Homo sapiens: one gene and its partners. The protein of the gene in region 3 interacts with the protein of the main gene of each other region in a biochemical or structural test. Each region holds a gene or a part of one and is shown on either strand. Other genes may lie near its edges. The genes, in order: DHX58, RNF125 and TRIM14.

Evidence for each region.
Region 1: the proteins of TRIM14 (region 3) and DHX58 form a complex in vitro, tested with the Homo sapiens proteins (one study listed by BioGRID).
Region 2: of the proteins of TRIM14 (region 3) and RNF125, one has a biochemical effect on the other in vitro, tested with the Homo sapiens proteins (one study listed by BioGRID).

What each region holds. Positions count from the first base shown.
Region 1 is NC_000017.11:42,102,684-42,109,792, forward strand, and holds part of DHX58 (ATP-dependent RNA helicase DHX58), read right to left. Parts: intron 6,704-7,109; coding exon 6,587-6,703; intron 5,426-6,586; coding exon 5,299-5,425; intron 5,113-5,298; coding exon 4,921-5,112; intron 3,307-4,920; coding exon 3,053-3,306; intron 2,485-3,052; coding exon 2,335-2,484; intron 2,245-2,334; coding exon 2,083-2,244; intron 1,116-2,082; coding exon 925-1,115; intron 1-924.
Region 2 is NC_000018.10:32,021,785-32,028,893, forward strand, and holds part of RNF125 (E3 ubiquitin-protein ligase RNF125), read left to right. Parts: intron 1-7,109. UniProt on the Homo sapiens protein: E3 ubiquitin-protein ligase that mediates ubiquitination and subsequent proteasomal degradation of target proteins, such as RIGI, MAVS/IPS1, IFIH1/MDA5, JAK1 and p53/TP53.
Region 3 is NC_000009.12:98,088,204-98,095,312, forward strand, and holds part of TRIM14 (tripartite motif-containing protein 14), read right to left. Parts: intron 6,827-7,109; coding exon 6,664-6,826; intron 3,799-6,663; coding exon 3,706-3,798; intron 1-3,705.

The DNA of each region.
Region 1 (7,109 bases), on a different chromosome or scaffold from region 3:
CCTCCTGGATAAAGGCTACACTTTCACACCTGACCTTTCAAATCTTCCACGGGCTAGTCTGTCTTTTTCTAAATCTCATTATTCACAGTCCCTTCCACTCAGGTCAACTGGTGTCGCTTTTTTTTTTTTAAAGGCAGAGTCTCACTCTATTGCCCAGGCTGGAGTGCAGTGGTGCGATCTTGGCTTGCCTCCCGGGTTCAAGTGATTCTCATGCCTCAGCCACCCAAGTAGCTGGGATTACAAGCATGGGCCACCACGCCCAGCTAATTTTTGTATTTTTTTTTAGTAGAGAAGGGGTTTCAATATGTTGGCCAGACTGGTCTTGAACTCCTAACCTCAAGTGATCTACCCACCTCCGCCTCCCAAAGTGTTGGAATTACAGGCGTGAGCCACTGCACCTGGCCCTCCATGGTTACCTTCTCATTCGCTCACATTCAAACCAGACCCATTGAGACCTAGCTGAAATGCAACCTCCTCAATTGAGAAAATCTGTGTGAAGATCCTTGGCACAGTGGCCCGGAACACAGAGGGTAACATAATGAATGGATGGAGGATGGGGGAAGGTTACTCTCTAGGAGATAGTGGATGGAGGATGGCCCAGGGATGGCCAAGCTCTCTTGATATCTTCGGAATAGGTAGGACCAGAGGGTCAATGTGTGGTCTTTTGACACTTAGTATCCTGAATTCCAGTTCTTGCTCAACCAGATAGTGGCTGTGGGAACTTGGGCAAGTCACATAGCCTCTCTGAGCCTCTATTTCCTTGCCTGTAAAATGGAGACAGGGATAAAACCTGTCTAACCAGATTATTGTGAAAATGCAAAGTACTTGCTACAATGCTCTTTAGCTTCCCAAAGCTTCAAAGCACTGTCTGGATGGGAAGGATTCCCAGGCCCCCATCCCAGTAGCCCCTTCCACAGGTCTCACGAGAAGTTGGGGTTCACATTGACATGGTGGGTGCCCTCCACCTTCCGCAGGTCGCTGCCATGGCCCACAGCCACCATGCAGTTGATGCAGAGTAGCTGCACGTGCTCCACTGGGAACTGCTGCCGCTGGTTCTCCCGCTGGGCTGCCTGGGCCGCCCGCTTGGTCAAGGCTGCCTGCTGCAGATCCCGGATCTGGGGTGGGAGGAGACACCAGGCATGGCTGGGGCCTAAGAGAACGTTCCTTGGGGGACAAAAGGTTCCCAAAGAACTAAGATCATTTGTACCTGGAAGAGACTTTCCTTAACCCTCCCTGGAGCTTAAAAGAAGCTCTATTGCTGTGATGATGCAGTAACTCATGCCTGTAATCCCAGCATTTTGGGAGGCCAAGGCGGGTGGATCACGAGGTCAGGAGTTCGAGACCAGCCTGGGCAACATGGTGAAACCCCATCTCTACTGAAAATACAAAATTAGCCGGGCATGGTGGCGCATGCCTGTAATCCCAGCTACTCGGGAGGCTGAGGCAAGAGAATTGCTTGAGCCCAGGAGGTGGAGATTGTGCCATGCACTCCAGCCTGGGTGACAGAGTGAGACTCCGTCTCGGGGAAAAAAAAAAAAACAGCTATGGAGAAAAACAGTATGAGTAGTCGGGGGCAACAGTGGGAGGGGTAAGCTTTCCTGCTCAATCTTGAAGGACTTTAGGCAAAGCTGCTTCTGTGAATCTGTCATGGGGCATCATTAACAATTATGCTGGGACAACAGGGAGCACCCTGGACAAGGCAGGATGGTGGTGGCCCTGCCTCAGGGGAACTGATGATATAAGTCCTAGTTCTGGGCTTATCTTCTGCACGTGGACTTATCTTGTCCCCTCTGCCTGGTTCCAGAAAGGCTGTAATGCAGCTCTTCCAGATACATAAAGTATCTCATGGCAAAGATAAATAAAGAGCCTTGGACAAGGCCTGTTCCCAAGGCCTTCTGGAGTCCAGGTACTGCCTTCCCTGGCAGCCCCACCCCGGCCCTTATTTAAACCTTCCCTAGGTGGCCAAAGTTAGCCCCGAGATGTAGAGGGGACAGGGGGACGTATGTGTGCAGTCAGAAACCTGCCAGGGAGGGGCTCCCTCCTCCCCATCCCTCCCACAGGGCATGCAGGCTGCCTGCAGACCTTGGCCTGGTACTCGGCCTGGTCCATTTTCTGCACAGCAGCCACTGCCTGCTCCATCAGCGTCTCCAGCGCCTCGTTGATCAGCTCCCGCTTCAGCTCCCGGCTACCTTCAGTTGCTACAAACGCGTATACACTCTGATCGGCCCGGGCACGGCCCCTGGCCTGGGAAGAGAGACAAGGGGTGTCCTGAGTTGGGCTGGGGCCCCACACAGGATCCTATAAGGGCGGCTGAGTGGAGGAGGATGTGAGTACCTGGACCATGGAGATTTCATTGGTCAAGAGCCCATAACGCACCACCACATTGCAATGTGGGATGTCCAGCCCCTCCTCCGCCACACTCGTGGCCACCAGAAGGTTCAGGGTTCCATCTTGGAACTTCTGGATCACTTCTTGCTGGTCCCTCTGCAGGCGGAGGGCAGGGAGGAGAAAGAGGCTGGTACATGAGGAGGCTCAGACTGACTCCACCTGCCAGAGTAGCCTCTTCTGGTTCAGCCCTCACTCCCAATCTTGGTCCATCTCCCTAGAGTACTTGAATCCCATCTTTATCCCCAGGTACCCCCAGGATCTTGCCCATCTTCCCAGGTAACTGTCCAACCCCTATCTTCCCTAGGGACTCCTAAGGGTCCCTGCCCCTCTAGTCTAGGAAAAACTCTCAAGCCATAGTCTTCTGCAAGGGACCCCAGACCTGATCCTGTGCCCTGAGGAACTGCATCACCCACCTCTTTCCCTACGGACCCCCATGCCCAACCTTCTGCCCCCAAGGACCTCCAGACTGGGAGAGGCTCCAGCACTGGGGAGGTCAGTGTCCGCCCCTCTCCCCTAGCTCCTTGCCCCTCTGCCTGGGGATAGTCAACTTTCTCTTTCCCCAGGGTCTCCCTGCCCCCACCTCTCTGTGCTGAAGACCCTGTTCCCCGCACTTCTCTCCTATGGAATCCCTCCCAGCGCCAGCATCTTTCCCCGAAGCCCACACCTGGGTCATGTGGGTGCTCTGGCTGCTGTTCCCAGCCCCAATCAGTAGCTGGGCCCGGATGTCCACAGTCTGCAGGCCCTGCTGCTGCTGGAGCCAGAGCAGGAGGGAGTGTGCGCTTTGGCGGGTGCGGGTGAAGATGATACCCCGAGGGCTGTTAGAGCTACTGAACTGCCTTTGCAGGATCTTTTCCAGCATCTCCAGTTTTGGATTCTCTGGGCCATGAGTTGCCAAGTGGGCCAGCTCATTCTTGCGGTCTGTCAAAAACCCCAAAATTTAGCTGGGTGTAGTGGCACATGTCTGTAGTCCCAGATACTTGGGAGGCTGAGGGCAGAAGGATCGCTTAAGCCTAGGAGGTCAAGGCTGAAGAGAGCTATGATTGCACCACTGCACTCCAGGCTGTGTAACAGAGTGAGACTCTGTCTGGGAAAAAAAAAAAGAAAGCAAGAAAGCAAGAGAAAGAGAGAGAGAGAAAGAGAGAAGGAAAGAAAGGGAGGGAGGGAAAGAAAGAAAAAAAGGAAAAGAAAGAGAGAGAGAAAGAGAGAAGGAAAGAAGGGAAGGAGGGAAGGAAGGGAGGGAGGGAGGGAAAGAAAGAAAGAGAAAGAAGAAAAGCCCCAGAGGCAGAGGATTCAGATCTTGGAGTGGGGAGGGCACTGGCGGAGGAGGTTCTCACAGCAATAGGACTGTAGGCGTGCAGAAGGTGGGGGGTGGGGGGTGGGGGAAGGATGGAACTCCTGCTCAACTCCCCCACAGCAGCACCAAGAACATATTTAAGGATGCCCTGGCCGGGTGCATTGGCTCACGCCTGTAATCCCAGCACTTTGGGAGGGTGAGGTGAGCGGATCACCTGAGGTCAGGAGTTCGAGACCAGCCTGACAAATATGGTGAAACCCCGTCTCTACTAAAAATACAAAAAAATTAGCTGGGCGTGGTGATGCACACTTGTAGTCCCAGCTACTCGGGAGGCTGAGGCAGGAGAATCACTTGAACCCAGGAGGGGGAGGTTGTAGTGAGCTGGGATGGTGCCATTGCACTCCAGCCTGGGCGACAGAGCGAGACTCCCTCTCAAAAAAACAAAAACAAAAACAAAAAAGGATGCCTCCTACCGAGCCCACTCTCAAGGCCAGCCTCACACCGGGGTCATACAGTACAGAACCTCAGACCAGAACCCTCTTCTCCCCAGTGACCAGGATGACCCTTGAGCTTTTAACTCTGACCTCTGCTACCCAGATCTCTTGAGCCCCAGCCTGTGCTGCGATTTGCAACCTTAAATTTCACCCTCTGACTTTCAGCTTCACTCTCTCAGTCTAAAGGAACCACTCCTAGCTAATCCTTTTAAAAAATCTGGGCCGGGCACAGTGGCTCACACCTGTAATCCCAGCACTTTGGGAGGCAGAGGCAGGAGGATCACTTGAGCCCAGGAGTTAGAGATCAGCCTGGGCAACAAAGCAAGACTCCGCCTCTTCAAAAAAAATTTTTTTTAATTAGCTGGGAGTGGTGGTGCCCACCTGTACGCCTAGCTACTTGGGAAGCTGAAGGGTGAGAATTACTTGAGCCCATTAGGTCGAGGTTGCAGTGAGCTATGATTGCACAACTGTCCTCCAGCCTGGGTGACAGAGCAAGACCCCGACTATTAAAAAAAAAAAAAAAGTCAACAATGTTAATTAATTTTAACAACTAAGCAAAAACCTTCACAAATGAGGAAATAAATCAGTCCTACCCATGGCCTTGGATTTTGGTTAGAAAAATAGGATCTCCACCAGTATCCTCACGGGCACCTTCCCATCCGACCTTGGCGCCTGTGCCCTGGCCTCTGACCTCGCATCCAGGTCCCATCATCCCCGGCCCCGAAGCCCCCTCCCGCCCCTCACCATCGAACAGGGCCAGCAGCCGGCGCTCGGCACACAGGATCTGGGTTTTAGTGACGTGCTCCCTGTGATAGAAATCCTGCAGCGCAGCCAAGGCATCCACGGCGCGGACGGTGTCATGGATGAGCAGCGCGTCATTGTAGCGCCTCAGGTGAAGCGCATACACCCGTTGCTCCTGAAGCCCAGCCAAAGCCGCTGCGGGAAGAGGGCGCAGGGTCTGAGCAGCCCACAGCCCCGCCCCCTGCCCTGCCCCATAGGGCCGTCCCACTCGACTCCACCCCTGGGGTGGATAGGCCCCGCCCCAAAGGCCTCCGCCCCGGCAGGCCCCGCCCCTGACCACTCCCACATCCTCGCCTCCGCCAGAAGGGCTGCCCCTCTCACCAGCCTCACTCAGCTTCACCACCTGCTGCTCATACATTTGCGTCCCAAATTTCCGGCTCAACTCAGGCATCTCCAGGTGGTCATGGATTTGGTCCATGAGCTTCTTCAGCAAGTCCCCAAACGGATCCTGAGCAAGAGGAGAGTTGGAGGGGATTCCCATACACGTTGGAGGATGGGCACCCAGTGGGGGTGCTGACCCCGGCGTGTAGCACACCGCGACTGCCTCACCCATCTGTCTTAGCTGTGGTGTGAGCTCCAGAGGGAGGCCGGCTAGGGTGTGGGGGAGTCCTGCCCTGTCTCACCCGCGATGTGCTCTTACCCTTTGGCCTGGGCACGGTGATGCCTAGTGTAAGGCACATGGACGTGCTTTGGTCAAGGAATAGGCCGAGGCGGACATCCGGGCCAGAGTGACTCAGCGAGTTTGGGGGGCAGGCACGTACTCCACTTGCTATATAACCTGTTTGTGTAAGTTCATACTGGACTCTACTGTCAGTAGAAGGTAAAACTGCCCTGCTGACGCTGTTCACGGAGCTTGGTTCAGCTCGGCACGGCAGGGCACGCTTGCTCGCCCAGAGAGAGAATAATGCTACTAACCCCTGCAAGGGACAGCCGGTCGCCTTGAAGGTGGGCAGTGGGGAGCCAGGAACCCGCTTGTGCCCAGAGGGAAAGAGTTAAGCTGCTGACCCTGACAGAGCTGGCCTTGCCGGCCAGGGAGAGCAGCTGCAGGCGTGGGGGCAGCAGGAGCCACAGGGCCGGAGCAGACAGCCCAGATAAAGGTGGACAGTGTGAGAGAGCCGCTGCTGAATAAAACTACATTTCACCTGCCTATGGCCCCCCAAGGGTTCTTTCAGCTATCTGCTCACTCACTCCCTCCCTCCAGACCACAGCATGGGCTCAAACCTGACCCCAAGTGTAACATTTGGTATAGTTATGGACCTGACACCTAGTCCTTGTCCAGTCCAGTCATGGCAGACACGAGGCCGTGTCCACACTAGAGAGGGCTCAGTAGAGCCTCAGCACAAAGTATCCCTGCTCTCTGGTTTGTAGTGCACTCCCCAGCATGACAGTGATGTGACAGACACCAGTGGTGCCTTCTGAGTCAATCCAAAGAGCGGGCTGTGGGCATGGGCTGTATCTGCCCCATTTCACAGAAAGGAGAAATTGAGGCTTGGATACATAGCAAGTGACCTGAAGTCACAGAGCTAGTGAGGGCAGAGTCAGGGCCCAAGCCTAGGTGTCCTAACTTCACACCGGCTCCCGCTCTCGCCGTGTCCCTGCCCCCGCGTACCTGGCTGCGCCTGTGGCAGAGGTTGTACTGTTTGCAAGGCTGTTGGCTGTGCTCCTGCAGCTGGGGGCAGCAGTTCTGGGGTGACATGATGCACCACGTGTCCAAGTTGGCACAGAGCTGGGGGCAACAGAGGACTTTACTGGAAAGGGAGGGTCTGTGGGGACAATGGTCAAAGATTTGGGGCAGGATGGATCCCAGCTGAGGACAGGAGAATGTGGGCATTCGTCTACTCAAATATTGCTCGCCCTCTCTGTGCCCGTCTTGTTCTAGGCACTGGGGATACAAAGGAACTCAGATTGGAGTTGGAGAGGCAGATAATAAACCAGTAAAAGAATAATAGAACCGGCCAGGCATGGTGGCTCACACCTGTAATCCCAGCACTTTGGGAGGCCAAGGCGGGCGGGTCACCTGAGGTCAGGAGTTTGAGACAGCCTGGCCAACGTGGTGAAACCCCACCTCTACTAAAAATACAAAAATTAGCCAGGCATGGTGGCACGCGCCTGTAGTCTCAGCTACTCGGGAG
Region 2 (7,109 bases), on a different chromosome or scaffold from region 3:
ATAAATTTGCAAAATGTTAAATTTTTTGTTTAATCTTTTTCTTTGTTAAAGTGAATAGGAAACTAGCAACTGGAAAAATAGTCATAAAATAGCATTACAAGGGCTGAACAAATTGCCTTTCCTCTCTTTACTGTTCTTTGTTTTGACAAATCTATGTCCATTGTTCTGGCTGTGGGCAGAATTTCCATATTCCTCCTTTTGGCAAACTTACTTGGTCCCCTTCCACTTTATAAATGTTAACCAGAGTCCTTTCTGCAGTAGAGATTGTGAGCGTTAATACCATTTGTACATTCTAAATGAATTACTCTTTTCCATTGAAATTAAGTTGGAAAACGAATAAATGCAAATGAACCTTCTGTATTTTATTATCCCATATTGAAGCTACATTTTCAGACATGTTGAACTAGGTGGTTTATGCTGATTTTTGTTTGTAAACCTATTTCAAGTCAAACAAGTTTAATAATAACAACAGTACCTTGAATGAATATGTAAGAGCACTTTATAAGTTGTATTGTGATGCAGTAGTAACTGGCCCTTACAGAGAGCTGGATTTGAAATTCACCTCTGCCACTAGCCAGATGTGTGACCACTTTAGGGAAATTTGAATTTGATTTTTTTCCCCTAAAGTTTTGATCATTTGAGTCTATGAAACAAACTGCTAATAGATTAACAAGGGGGGAAAAGCTTACAAATGTATTAATGAGCATATGGGCATGGGAGTCATACAAAATATGAAAACTGAGAGAAAGGGCCAGATGCTTGATGCTTTTATACCATCTTGAGGTTACAGCAGAGTAGGGGCTTGGAACATGGTTATGGGAGGGAGAAAGAAAGAAGGGGCTGGGGCAAAGATGGTCTAGTTATGCAGATGAAACTTCATAGATAGCAGCTCCTAGAAAGAATAGGCATGAGCCTGTGTTAAGTTGCTCTGTCAGACCTTCGTAGGTGTCAGACTTTCAGTTAATAATTTCCTAGGTACAGATAAGGGGGTGCCTCCAAGAAAGCCTGGTTGTTTATTTCACCAGTGTAGATTTTCTCTACAGATGCAAGTCTCCTCCACAAAAGGCAGCTTTTCAGGGTTATTCCTGTGGGAATATATCAAAGAAGTACATTTTGGGGTGAAATATTTTCAGTTTCCTTTAGTCCCCCATTTAAAGCTTAATTTTTAAAACATTAAACATTTCCTTTATTTTTATTATTTATTTATTTATTTTTAGCGGTGAGATCTCACTCTGCCACCCAGGCTGCAGTGTAGTGGTGCAATCATGGCTCACTGCAGCCTCCACCTCCTGGGCTCAGCAATCCTCCTGCCTCAGCCTCTCACGTAGCTGGGACTATAAGTGCCTGCCACCATGCCTGGCTATTTTTCACTTATTTGTTTATTTTGAGATGGAGTCTCACTCTGTCACCTAGGCTGGAGGGCAGTGGCGTGATCTCAGCTCGCTGCAACCTCTGCCTCCCAGGTTCAAGTGACTGTCCCGCCTCAGCCACTCTAGTAGCTGGGATTACAGACATGCACCACCACACCTGGCTAGTTTTTGTATTTTTTGTAGAGGCAGGGTTTCGCCATTTTGCCCAGGCTGGTCTTGAACCCCTGAGCTCAGGTGATTTGCCTGCCTCGGCCTCCCAAAGTGCTGGAATTACAGGAGTGAGCCACTGCACCCAGCCAAGAAAGTGACAATTCTTTACATACCGCAAGGTCAGGATTTTGTAAGGGAACCATATACACAGGGTACCAGGCCAATCTTTTTCTAAGTCTGTTGGCTTTTTAATGTCAATTTCAGTCCCTCAAAACAGTTTGATCATGTATCTAAGTATGACATTCCAGTTAAAGCCTTGCTAAAATAACCACTGTCTCCAATTATGTCCTGTTCAGACTGTTACTGAACTTATGCATGTAACTATATTGCCATGAAATAGGAATACTCAAAACCCAGTTTGTGAATCCAAAGAGAAAAAGGTAAATTATTTTGCTCACAAAAGTATACTTGGCCAGGTGCAGTGGCTCATGCCTGTAATCCCAGGACTTTGGAAGGCCGATGCAGGAGGATGGCTTGAGACCAGCAGTTTGTGACTAGCCTGGGCAACATAGTGAGACCCCATCTCTACTACACAAAAGTCTTGTTCAAAAGAGAAAACCATATTTTACTTTTGAATCAGTATATCAATAATAAATTTAAATAAAACCTAATAAACAAGTCCATCCAATTTCAGTCAGCTTTGACCACACAAGATTTACATATCTTTTATAACCTCTTACGATTTTTCTTCTATTTCCAACTTTCTATATTCATTTAGTTTTATCTATATCTTTTTTTATTCTTTCAATTTGAAACAAGCTTCAAATAACTTCTAAACTAGACACAATTCGTTTTCCATTAACAAAAAAATCACACTTCATGCCATTCTTTTTTTTTTTTTTTTCTTTTTTTTTTTAAGATGGAGTCTCACTGTGTCACCCAGGCTGGCGTGCAGTGGCATGATCTTGGCTCATTGCAACCTCTGCCTCCCAGGTTCTCCTGCCTCAGCCTCCTGAGTAGCTGGGATTACAGGCGTGCACCACCACACCCGGCCTCATGCCATTCTTACAACCTTTCTCTCCAAGAACATATCTTGCTTTTTTGGTATATTCTGCCTGAAGAATTGTTTGTCTTATTTCTAGTAGTTTTATTTGTTTGTTTTTAGAGATATGATCTAAGAACAAACTACTCAGTGATGTGATCATAGCCTACTGCAACCTCAAATTCCTGGGCTCAAGCAATCCTCCTACCTCAACCTCCTGAGTAGCTGGAACAACAGGCATGCCCCACCACACCCTGCTAAAATTTTATTTTTTTATAGAGACAGGGTCTGCCTATGTTGCCCAGGCCAATCTTGAATTCCTAGGCTCAAGTGATCCTCCTGCCTTAGCCTCTCAAAGAGCTGGGATTACAGGCATGAGCACTCCCAAACTGCTGGGATTACAGGCATGAGCCACCACACCCAGCCAACTAACAATTTAAAACTAGCTTTATTGCTGGGCACAGTGGCTCACACCTATAATCCCAGCACTTTGGGAGGCCGAGGCAGGCGGATCACTTGAGCCCAGGAGTTGGAAACCAGCCTGGTCAACATGGCGAAACCTTGTCCCTACTGAAAATACTAAAAAATTAGCCGGGCATGGTGGCGCACATGGAGGCTGAGGTGGGAGAATCGCTTGAACCTAGGAGGCAGAGGTTGCAGTGAGCTGAGATCGCACCACTGCACTCCAGCCTGGGTGACAGATTGAGAGTCGTTCTCAAAAAAACAAAAACAAACAAAAAAACCTAGCTTGATTTACCAAAGATTACTAAAGTCATATGAACTTCGAAAAACATTTGGGATAGTTAATTTGTGAGTACTCATTTATTTAGAAGTCAGTTTGGTACTACAGACTATACAAACTCATGTGTAAACATATATATACATGTAGACACAACATATATCACATGCACACACCAGTATCCAAAAGCCAGAGAGATTAGGAAGTTTAATGCAGGAGAGCAGAACTTTAGACATGAGAGGATGGACCCTGCCCATGGCTTCTGTGGCTCAGTGAGAAGACAGAGGACCCCCAATGGCCAGGCGTGGTGGCTCACGCCTGTAATCCCAGCATTTTGGGAGGCTGAGGTGGGGGGATCACCTGAGGTCAGGAGTTCGAGACCAGCCTGCCCAACATGGCGAAACCCCGTTTCTCTAAAAATACAAGAAAATTAGCCAGGGGTGGTGGCAGGCACCTGTAATTCCAGCAACTCAGGAGGCTGAGGCAGGAGAATCACTTGAACCCAGGAGGTGGAGGTTGCAATAGCCGAGATGGCGCCACTGCACTCTAGCCTGGGTGACAAGAGTGAAACTCTGTCTCAAAAAAAAAAAAAAAAAAAAAAAAGAAGACAGAGGACCCCCAAAGAGGGGCGATTGGTGGCTTTTGTGTTTGTGTATGCGTGTGTGTGTGTGTTCCTCAAGGGGTCTCAGGGTTCACAGAAGTCCCCTCTAGGCCTCTTCATGTGGTATCAAAAATGGCAAAAAGGAGGAGGGGCAGAAGGGGAAGGAAATGGAAGAACAAGTCTTAGAGGAGCCAATTTGGGGAGATTTTAAGCTTTCAAAAGGCCAATACAGTTTTAGTTAGTAGGAGTCTGAGGAACAAAAAAAGGTCTAGTTGACTAAGAAGTTCCCAAGGGAGAAACAGGATTTGAAAGAGAACAGAGAATATCAGCTATTAATTAAGCTGGCTTTTGACCACAGAGCCATCTTTCTTAAAAAAAACTTTTTTTTTTTTTTTTGAGATGGAGTCTTGCTCTGTTGCCCACGCTGGAGTGCAACAGCGCAATCTTGGCTCACTGCAACCTCCGCCTCCTGGGTTCAAGCGATTCTCGTGCCTCAGCCTAAAAAATCCTTTTAAATATGCAAGCAGCAAACATTTTGTCCTCTGAGCACCCGGTCTTTTTTTTTTTTTTTTTTTTTTTTGAGATGTAGTCTTGCTCTGTCGTCCAGGCTAGAGTGCAGTGGCCCGATCTGGGCTCACTGCAACCTCTGCCTCCCGGGTTCAAGCAATTCTCCTGTCTCAGCATCCCGAGTAGCTGGGACTACGAGGGTGTGCCACCACACCCACCTAATTTTTGTATTTTTAGTAGAGAAGAGGTTTCACCATGTTGCTCTCAAACTCCTGACCTCAGGTGATCTGCCTGCCTCGGCCTCCCAGAGTGCTGGGATTACAGGTGTGAACCACTGTCCCCAGCCTGAGCACCCAGTCTTTTGTGGGAGCAGAGAGAATGGTAGCTGTGGCATTTCATGCTTCTTTTTCCCCAGACCCTCCCAGCACCCCCTCTTTAGGGGGTACCCACCTCTCCTCACCTGTTTGGTTCCCAGCTGTAGCAGGAGGTATGTCTCTCTGGCCCCGTAGAGGAAGCAGATTAATGGGGAAAAAGTTACTATCACACTCTAAATATAAACCAACGTTTTAACCAAAGGAAATAACTCAAAATCAAAACAAATAAGAACATTTGAGACTGAAACCAAGAAGCTCTTGATGGCTTCAACCAAGGTTTCCTAAGAGGGAGCAAAAGTTGCAACCCTTTCAAAATCCAGATCATTCCCTACAACAGCTTAAAGAAAGCAAGGTTTTGCCAGCCGCAAATGGGGTACAACCCACATTTTTGTCTGGCCATATTCTCTAGGGTTTAAGACAGAGGAAAACAACAGCTGGATGAGAGGCTTACAGAATGAATGGGTACCCCAAAGGTTAAGAAGTCATACAAATATAAATTCAAAACAATTCAAACTAATTTTTTCCAAGTATTTCTTTTATTTTTCCTTCCTGAGTTAAAGGATTTACATCTCCTGGGGTCTTGTTCCCTGAAAGGGAATTGAATCCAGGCTGCAGTGGTGAAAGTGCAGAATCCTTACCACTGGACTACAGGATGGAGTCTTTTTTTTTTTTTTTTAATTTAACAAATTTCATAAGGAATCTAAAGCATGCAATTTGAGTACAAAGGATTTTAACTTTGTTTTAAATCTGATTTCTACTTTTCAAAAATCTTGCCGAGGGAGTTTCTAAACCTGTATTCCTTTTGTATCTTTTCATAGGTACCAATAAGGTAGCTATTTAAGATGTGAGCTCTAAAAAGTTTTCTTTTAAATATAGCCATTCATTTATTTTAAAAGCGATTGAAACCAATACAAGAACTAATTTATATGTTTTTCTCTGTTGATCCAAATTTAGAAAGGGTAAAACACAGAGACTCATACCATCCACATTTGACCAGGCACTATAGGCAGAGATCGGAGAGGAGAACTGACTTGGTTAAAAAAAAATGAGTTTACCTTTCTTTGCTGGCTTTTCATCCGTTGTTCCAAGATCCCATTCATTGGCTCTAGAATGAACAAAATGACTTACATCCTGATCACAACACCAAAAATTTTTCTCCTAAAGATTCGATACTTTGAGTCTATAAAACAGGCAGATAACAGATTAATGGGATAAAAGCATACACATTTATTAATATGCATATGGGCGTGGGAGTCATACAAAATATGAAAACTGAAAGAAAGGGCCAGATGCTTGATGCTTTTATACTTGAGGTTACAGAAGAATGGGGGATTGCAAGATGGCAAGACAAGTTATAAGAGGGAAAAAAAAACATAAGGGGCAAAGCTGTTCTTGTTATACAGATGAAACTTCACAGGTAGAAGCTCTCAGAAAGAATGGGCAGTAGTCGGCCGGGCGCGGTGGCTCACACCTGTAATCCCAGCACTTTGGGAGGCTGAGGCGGGCGGATCATGAGGTCAGGAGATCGAGACCATCCTGGCTAACATGGTGAAACCCCGTCTCTACTAAAAATACAAAAAATTAGCCGGGCATGGTGGCGGGTGCCTGTAGTCCCAGCTACTCAGGAGGCTGAGGCAGGAGAATGGTGTGAACTAGGGAGGCAGAGCTTGCAGTGAGCCGAGATTGCACCACGGCACTCCAGCCTGGGCAACAGAGCGAGACTCCGTCTTAAAAAAAAAAAAAAAAAAAAAAAAAAAATAATAGGTAGTGGTTCATGATAAGTTTTTTTGTTAGACCTTCAAACGTTTCAGACTCTTGGTTAATCTCCTAGATTGGGCAGGGGAGACCTCAGAAAGCCTGCCTATTTATTTCACCAATGTAGACTTTCTCTACCAATGTAGACTTTTCTCTCCCCCACAACATGCAGCTTTTCAGGGTTTTTCCTTTCTGCAGGCCATCTCAATAGCCATCTCGAAGTATGTCAAATAATTATTTTTGGGGGTAAAATATTTTGTTTCCTTTTTTTTTTTTTTTTGAGATGGGGTCTCGCTCTGTTATTCCGGCTGGGGTGCTGTGGCGTGATCTCAGCTCACTGTAACCTCTACCTCCTGAGTAGCTGGGACTACAGGTGTGTGCCAACACGCCCGGCTAATTTTTGTATTTTTTAGTAGAGATGGGGTTTTGCTATGTTGGCCAGACTGGTTTCAAACTCCTGGCCTCAAGTGATCTGCCCACCTCAGCCTCCCAAAATGCTGGGATTACAGGTTGAGCCACCCTGCCCAGCCAATTTTCTTTACCACTAAGTTGCTTAATCTCTTTGAATCTC
Region 3 (7,109 bases):
TGCACATCCCTTATACTGTCTGTATTTTGTGCCGTGAAATTTGTTGCCAATTAATACAAATTTAATTAAAACTAATCCTATCACTGTTAACATTAGGGTGTGTGTACTTCCTATCTTTCCCCTCCCCTTGCTGCTTTATAGCTTTTCTTTTTCTTTTTTTTCTTTTTTTGAAACGGAGTCTCGCTCTGTTGCCCAGGCTGGAGTGCAGTGGCGCGATCTCCGCTCACTGCAAGCTCCGCCTCCCAGGTTCAGGCCATTCTCCTGCCTCAGCCTCCCGAGTAGCTGGGACTACAGGCGCCCACCACCACGCCCGGCTAATTTTTATAGCTTTTCTTAATATTGGTGTCACACCATACATGACGTTAGGTAATCTGCTTTTTAAAATTGATTGATCTACTTGTGAGGCATTTTGACACATCATAATATCCTTTCACAAGAGCATTTTAGTGGAGATTCTAAAATTTTGATGTTTGGACGCATAACTTAGTCCTCCGTTTAAAAAGCTTTTGAAACCACTAATACAATTACATTTTTACGTATCTGATTGCTTCTGTAGAATATACTCCTAAAACAGGAATTGCTGGGTCAATGGGTATTTTTTTAAGGTCTTTGATACATATTGCAAAACTATCCTCCCCAAAGTTTGTAGTGATTTAAACTCTCATTAACATTTCTCTTTGCATTACACCATGTATGTACACATGAAGTTTTTTTTGTTGTTGTTGTTGTTGTTTTTTAAGTCTGGATCACAGGGTATGTGGATATTCAGCTTTCATAAACAAGGCCAAACAGTTTTCCATGGACATTTGGATTGTTTCCGTGTTGCCTATTGTGACTAATGTTGCTATAACTGTAAACGTGTAACAGAGACTGAGTTTTCTAAGAAAAAGAGCATTTTTCTAAGAGAAAGAGAATGAATTATTTTTAAGATTTTCCCCCTTTTTCTCCTGTCTCCCACTTCCTACTTAGCTCTTTATTTTTATTTTTTTTAAGATGGAGTTTCACTCTTGTTGCCCGGGCTGGAGTGCAGTGGTGTGATCTCGACTCACTGCAACCTCGGCCTCCTGGGTTCAAGCGATTCTCCTACCTAAGGCTCCCTAGTAACTAGGATTACAGGCACCTGCCACCACGCCTGGCTAATTTTTGTATTTTCAGTAGAGACAGGGTTTCATCATGTTGGCCAGGCTGGTCTTGATCTCCTGACCTCCGGTGATCCGCCTGCCTCAGCCTCCCAAAGTGCTGTGGTTACAGGTGTGAGCCACTGTGCCCTGCCTCTACTTAGCTCTTTAGAAATGTAATTATAACCATTACCTTCCCTTCACCAGATAGTCCCTACAGGGCAAACTTATCTACCTACTTAGAGGGTCTAGAACCAGAACTTTCTCCCACCAGGAGATTGCCTTAAGAGACAACAGTCAATTTACAACATAAAGTATGCCTTCAACAGAACTCTTCCACCCGGACAGCATCTCAAGACAACGGCCACATTACAACCTAGTTCTGCCCTCAATGGCACCAGCTCAACCACTTGGTAGAAAACGCATCAAAATGAGTCATATAGACCCCCATCTGCTTGCTCCTTCCCTGCATGCCATTCATACAAAGTCCCCATTTAAAAGCCTCTGCTTTCTGCCCCAAAAGTGAGGCGGTACCGTTAAGGGCAGGAGGAGCCTGTACCTCTTCCCCTAAGCTAATCTTTAGAATAAAACCACTTTCTTTATACCAGACCTCGCTCTTGTTAATTGAACTCTGCAAAGCGTTGAGCAACTGAACCTGTGTTTCGGTCACATAACATTCTTGTGCAGGTCTTTTGATTCACATATGTATGCATTTCTGTTGGATATATGTCTAAGGTGGGAGAAAATGCTGCTCATTATAACCACTTCTATTCAACAATGTTCTAAATGTAGTAGACAGTAACTCAAGGCACGAAAAAGAAGTGAAAGGAAAGAATAAAGATCGGGGAAATGAAAGATTATTATTCATAGGTGACATGCTTATTTACACAAAAACCCAAATAATCTGTAGATAGCTTAGAAGTACTAAGTGAATTTATAACAGCCACTCAGTATGTCAATATACAAAAATGGATAAATCTCATATTGAGTGAAAGAAGCAAAACACAGAAGGGTATAGTGTGAATGATCTACTGAAAGTTCAAAAACAGGTAAAACTAACCTATAGTCCTAGAAGTCTGGAGAGTGGATCCCCTTTGGGGATAGTAAACAAGAAGGCACATGAGGAAGACTTCTGGGGAGTGGAAATTTCCATTTCTTGATCTGAAGGTGGTTACAAAATATGTTTCCTTTTTAAAAAATCATTGAGCTGATTGATCTGCACATTTTTGATTTGTGCACTTTTTTTTTTTTTTTTTTTTTTAAGACGGAGTCTTGCTCTGTTGCCAGGCTGGAGTGCAGTAGTGCGACCTCGGCTCACTGCAACCTTCGCCTCCCGGGTTCAAGCGATTCTCCTGCCTCAGTCTCCTGAGCAGCTAGGACTACTGGTGCATGCCACCATGCCCAGCTAATTTTTGTATTTTTAGTGGAGACAGGGTTTCACCATGTTGTGCAGGCTGGTCTCGAACTGCTGACCTCAAGTGATCCACCTGCCTTGGGTTCCCAAAGTGCTGGGATTACAGGTGTGAGCCACCGTGCTCGGCCTTTAAATCAGTATGTTAGCCTTTGTATGGAAAATGTAAATTTATTCAGTGCCTCTGTTTTGATATTCACTGTCCCCCTCCCAACACCAGGGGCAGTGATCACCATTCTTTGGTTTCCCTCTGTCTCCTGATGGTTACTTTGCACTTGAATAAACTCTGCTAACTGGATACTGAGCCTTCTTTAGATTGAGTCTTTTTTAGGTTGACACCCAGTAATTCCACTTGAGAAATTACTCCTAAAAAATAATCTGAAAATGAGGTATGGTGTGTTCATTCTCTCATTCATTAATTCAATTCAACAAATGTGTACAAGAATGGATGTTTATTACAGCATTGTTTTAGAAATGAAAATGTAAACATCCAACATTATGAGATTGGCTAAATATGACACATCCATTCAATGCAATGCCATGCAACCTCTAAAAACAATGATAAAAATAAAAAATTAGCTGGGCATGGTGGCACACACTGATAGTCCCAGCTATGAGGGAGGCTGAGGTGGGAAAATCATTTGTGCCCAAGAGGTCGAGGCTGCAGTGAGCCATGACTGCACCACTGCACTCCAGAGCAAGACTCGGTCACACACACACACACACATAGTGATAATATTAGCTGGGCACAGTGGCTCACTGTATAAATCCCAAATATATATATGTTCATAATATATCAGTAAATGAAAACAGATGACAAAACAGTATGTATAGTATGACACCACGTTTGTAACATAAAAAGATATATTAAATATATCATTATATGCATATTAGATGTGCTAAAAAAGCTAAAAGGACAAATAATAATAGCAGTTATTCACAGAAGAGGGATTATGAGTAACTTTTTTCTTTCATTTTCTAATTTTTCTACAATGAACATGTATTGTTTTATTGCCTTTAATAATAAACATTTTTTAAAAAACAAGTTCTTAAAATAAATAAATAAATAAATTCTAATGAGAAAAAAAGAGGGACCTCCATTTCCATGATCCTCCTCCACCCAACATCCCACCATCTCCACCGTCTCCACCCTATCCCCACTCCCGGGGGTCTTACATTTCAGCAATAGCGATCGCTCTGGTGAGGGGCTGGTTTTCAACAAGGTACCTGGCTTGGTGCTGGAAGGGTCTGAGAGCTGGCAGTTTATGCCTGTAAGGAATTGTTGAGAAATGAGCGCCCGGAGCTTATGCAAGCAGACAAATAAGACGTGCTAAAAATACCACACAACTGGAGATTCGCATAATCTCGCCCAAGAGCCAGGCAGATTTAAGGGATTTATGTGAATTCACAGGGACAGGAAAACCCCAGGATGACAAGGCTGGTGTGGGAGAGTCCTAAATAGGAGGAGGAGCTGAGGCGCGAACAACTACTGGATCCAACACTCAAGGATGGGCGGCGACTCAGGGAAGATGTGCAGATTCCAGGGTAAAGATGGAAAACAAGAAAGTAGAGCTGAGTCCTCAGGAAGGTCTGAGTGCTCAGAAAGAAAGAAGGAGGGGAGTCTATCCCAACAAGCGGGCACAGCAGGGGCACCCAGGGCCCTTGGCACTTGCTGTGCCCTCTGCCTGGACAGCCCCCCCACACCCTTCCCCCCTTGCCCAGGTTGCCTCCTTCCCAGCTATTGGGGCCGCAGCTCACTCAGCACCTCCGCAGAAGTGCCTTCCGCCCCCATCACTCCCAGCACTCATCACAGGGGCCTGTAGAGATCTGTGGGAAGCCCACCTGCAGGCTGTTTAAATCAAGTTTTGCCTAAAGCTCCTCCTTACATCTTTTAAGTTCGGCCTACATATTTTTCTGTACGTCATGAACAATAACAAGTGGAGGTGTAAACAGACCGTAGCCTGCACTTGTGCCAATCACCAAGTTTTGGCCAATCAGATGTAGCCAACTGTTCAAATTGTGTTCAAATTAGGCGAACGCCGAGCTGTAACCAATCCAGCTGCTTCTGTACCTCACTTCTGTTTTCTGTACGTCGCTTTCCTTTTTCTGTCCCTAAATCTTCTTCCACCACGTGGCTGTGCTGGAGTCTCTGAGTGCACTGTGGCTCAGAGGGCTGCCGGATTCATGAATCGTTCATTGCTCATTTAAACTCCTTTAAATTTAATTTGGCTGAAGTTGTTCTTTCATCAAGGCAAAAGCCTCTCCCCTCTCCCCAGAACTCTAGAATCATAGGTCCTACTGCCGAGGCGATACCACCACATGGGAAGTCCAACTTCTCAAATCTAACAGGTTCACTTCATTCCCTCCAGTCCTAAATACTCTTTCTCACTTCAGAAAATGACAGTTTCCTTCTGCGAGTTGCCCACGTCCAAATCCTTGGATTCTGATCTCTTTCCTCTCTCCCCTGTGACCCTACGTCCACTCCTGTTGTCCCCATTGCTGCTCCTTCGATATGGCCAGCTCACTCCCATCGCGCCTCAGGACCTCCACCCTTGCTTTTCCCTCTGTCTAGAATACCTCCCCCAGACGTAACAGCAGCAGCAATCATAATCGCCAAGACATACGTGGTGCTTAATATGCCTGAGCGCTATATGTGTAAGAGCTCATTTAATCCTCACAGCAGCCCAGGAGAGGCGACTGCATTATGGTCTCCACTTTACAGATGCAGAAACAGAGGCATGGAAAAGGGAGGAGCCGTGTCTAAGATGGCAGGGTTCAGCAGGGTTCCAAGTGGTAGACCTCGGATAGGAACCCAGGAGGCCTAGCTCCAGAGGCCGTGCCTATGACCACTGTGCTCTCTGGCCCTTCAGACCCACAGAACCTGCAGAATGAATGCTTCCTTTGGGCCACCTTGAGTGTCCCCTTCTCAGAGGCCATCCCAACTGCTTATATAAAACAGCTCCTCCTCCTTGTCACTTTCCTGTCTTCCATCCTGCCCTGGTTTATTATTATTATTATTATTGTTATTTTTGAGACAGAGTCTTGCTCTGTCACCCAGGTTGAAGTACAGTGGCATGATCTCAACTCACTGCAACCTCCACCTCCCGGGTTCAAGCAATTCTCCTGCCTCAGCTTCCCGAGTAGCTGGGATTACAGGTGCATGCCACCATGCCTGGCTAATTTTTGTATTTGTAGTAGAGATGGGGTTTCACCATGTTGGCCAGGCTGGTCTCAAACTCCTGACCTCATCATCCACCCACCTCGGCCTCCCAAAGTGCTGGGATTACAGGCGTGAGCCACCACGCCCGGCCTTTATTATTCTTTATAGCAGTATAGCAGTTCCTGTCACCTGACATGTTTGTGTACGGTCTGTCTTCCCCTACGAAGACTGTGAGCACCAAAAGAGGAGAAGGAGCTTTGTTTTGTGCCCTGCTATGCCTGGCATATAAGAGGGGCTTGATAAATGTTCTGAATGAATCATGATAGCAGAGGTGAATGAATGAATGAATGCATAAATGAATCAAAGAACAGATATTTTTGAGTACATGTTTTGTGCCAGGCCCTGGGGGGACCTCAGAGTTGGACCTAAAGCTGGTTTCTGCCCTTCACGTGCTTACAAGGGGCAAGGAGGGGGGTCCATGTATCCACTTCATGAGCACCCTCTAGCAGGACATGGGCAGGCCCTGGAGCGGGAAGGGAGAGGGGAGATGGCTAAAGGAGAGAGTGAGTCAGGGCTGGGCTGGCAGGAAAGGGCTTCCCAGGTGGGCGCAGCTGTGCCAGTCTGCCTCGAAGGGGTGCCAGGCCTTGGCCCCAGCCAGAGGAAGAGAAGGAGGAAGAGTTGGTCATTCCAGCTGGGAGCCCAGAGCAAGGCTGAGATGTGGCAGGCTCCCAGGAGCAATCTGAGGGGCAGAAGCAGGGCAGTGTGACTGGAGAAGGGCAGGTCTCAGTCTCAGGAAGGGTTGGAGGTGAAGTGGTGAGGGTGGGTTGGGCACCAGGCCCAGGAGCCCCTGACCGCCCAGCCAAGGGCCTCAGTGTGGGAGAGACAGGATGTAGGGAGATGATCTTTGCATTCGTCTCTGGGCTAAAGGACACTAGGGGAGTTAAGGACACAAAGTTGGTCACTCGGCGACTTACTTTCCTTAAGGCGAATGTCCAATGGCGTCTGTAATGTACTCTCCACGGCTTCCACGAGGCCCTTAAAGAAGCTCTTGACGGGCTCAAAGGAGAGGGGCACGGGATGGCACAGCTCCCCGAGGCTCATCTGCTGCTGCATCTCCTGCTCGGTGGCCGTGTATGCCTGTGTGGGCACACGGGGGTGAGGGTGGCTCTGGGAGATGCAGGCAGCATCCCAGCCTCCTGTGCTGCACCCAGGAACAAACCCACACCAGCATGCCCAGGCTCCACGTTGGCCTGGCACCTATGGTCAGCCCAGGCCATGCCTGCAGGAGCAGAGCCCTGGAGAGACCATACGGCATCCCTGAGGTGGGAGCCATGCGGAGGTGCGGTTTTTCAGTGCTGGCACTGGGGATTCCTCCCTCTCCATCCTTCCTCCTTTCCTTCCTTCCTTACGTGTTCATTGA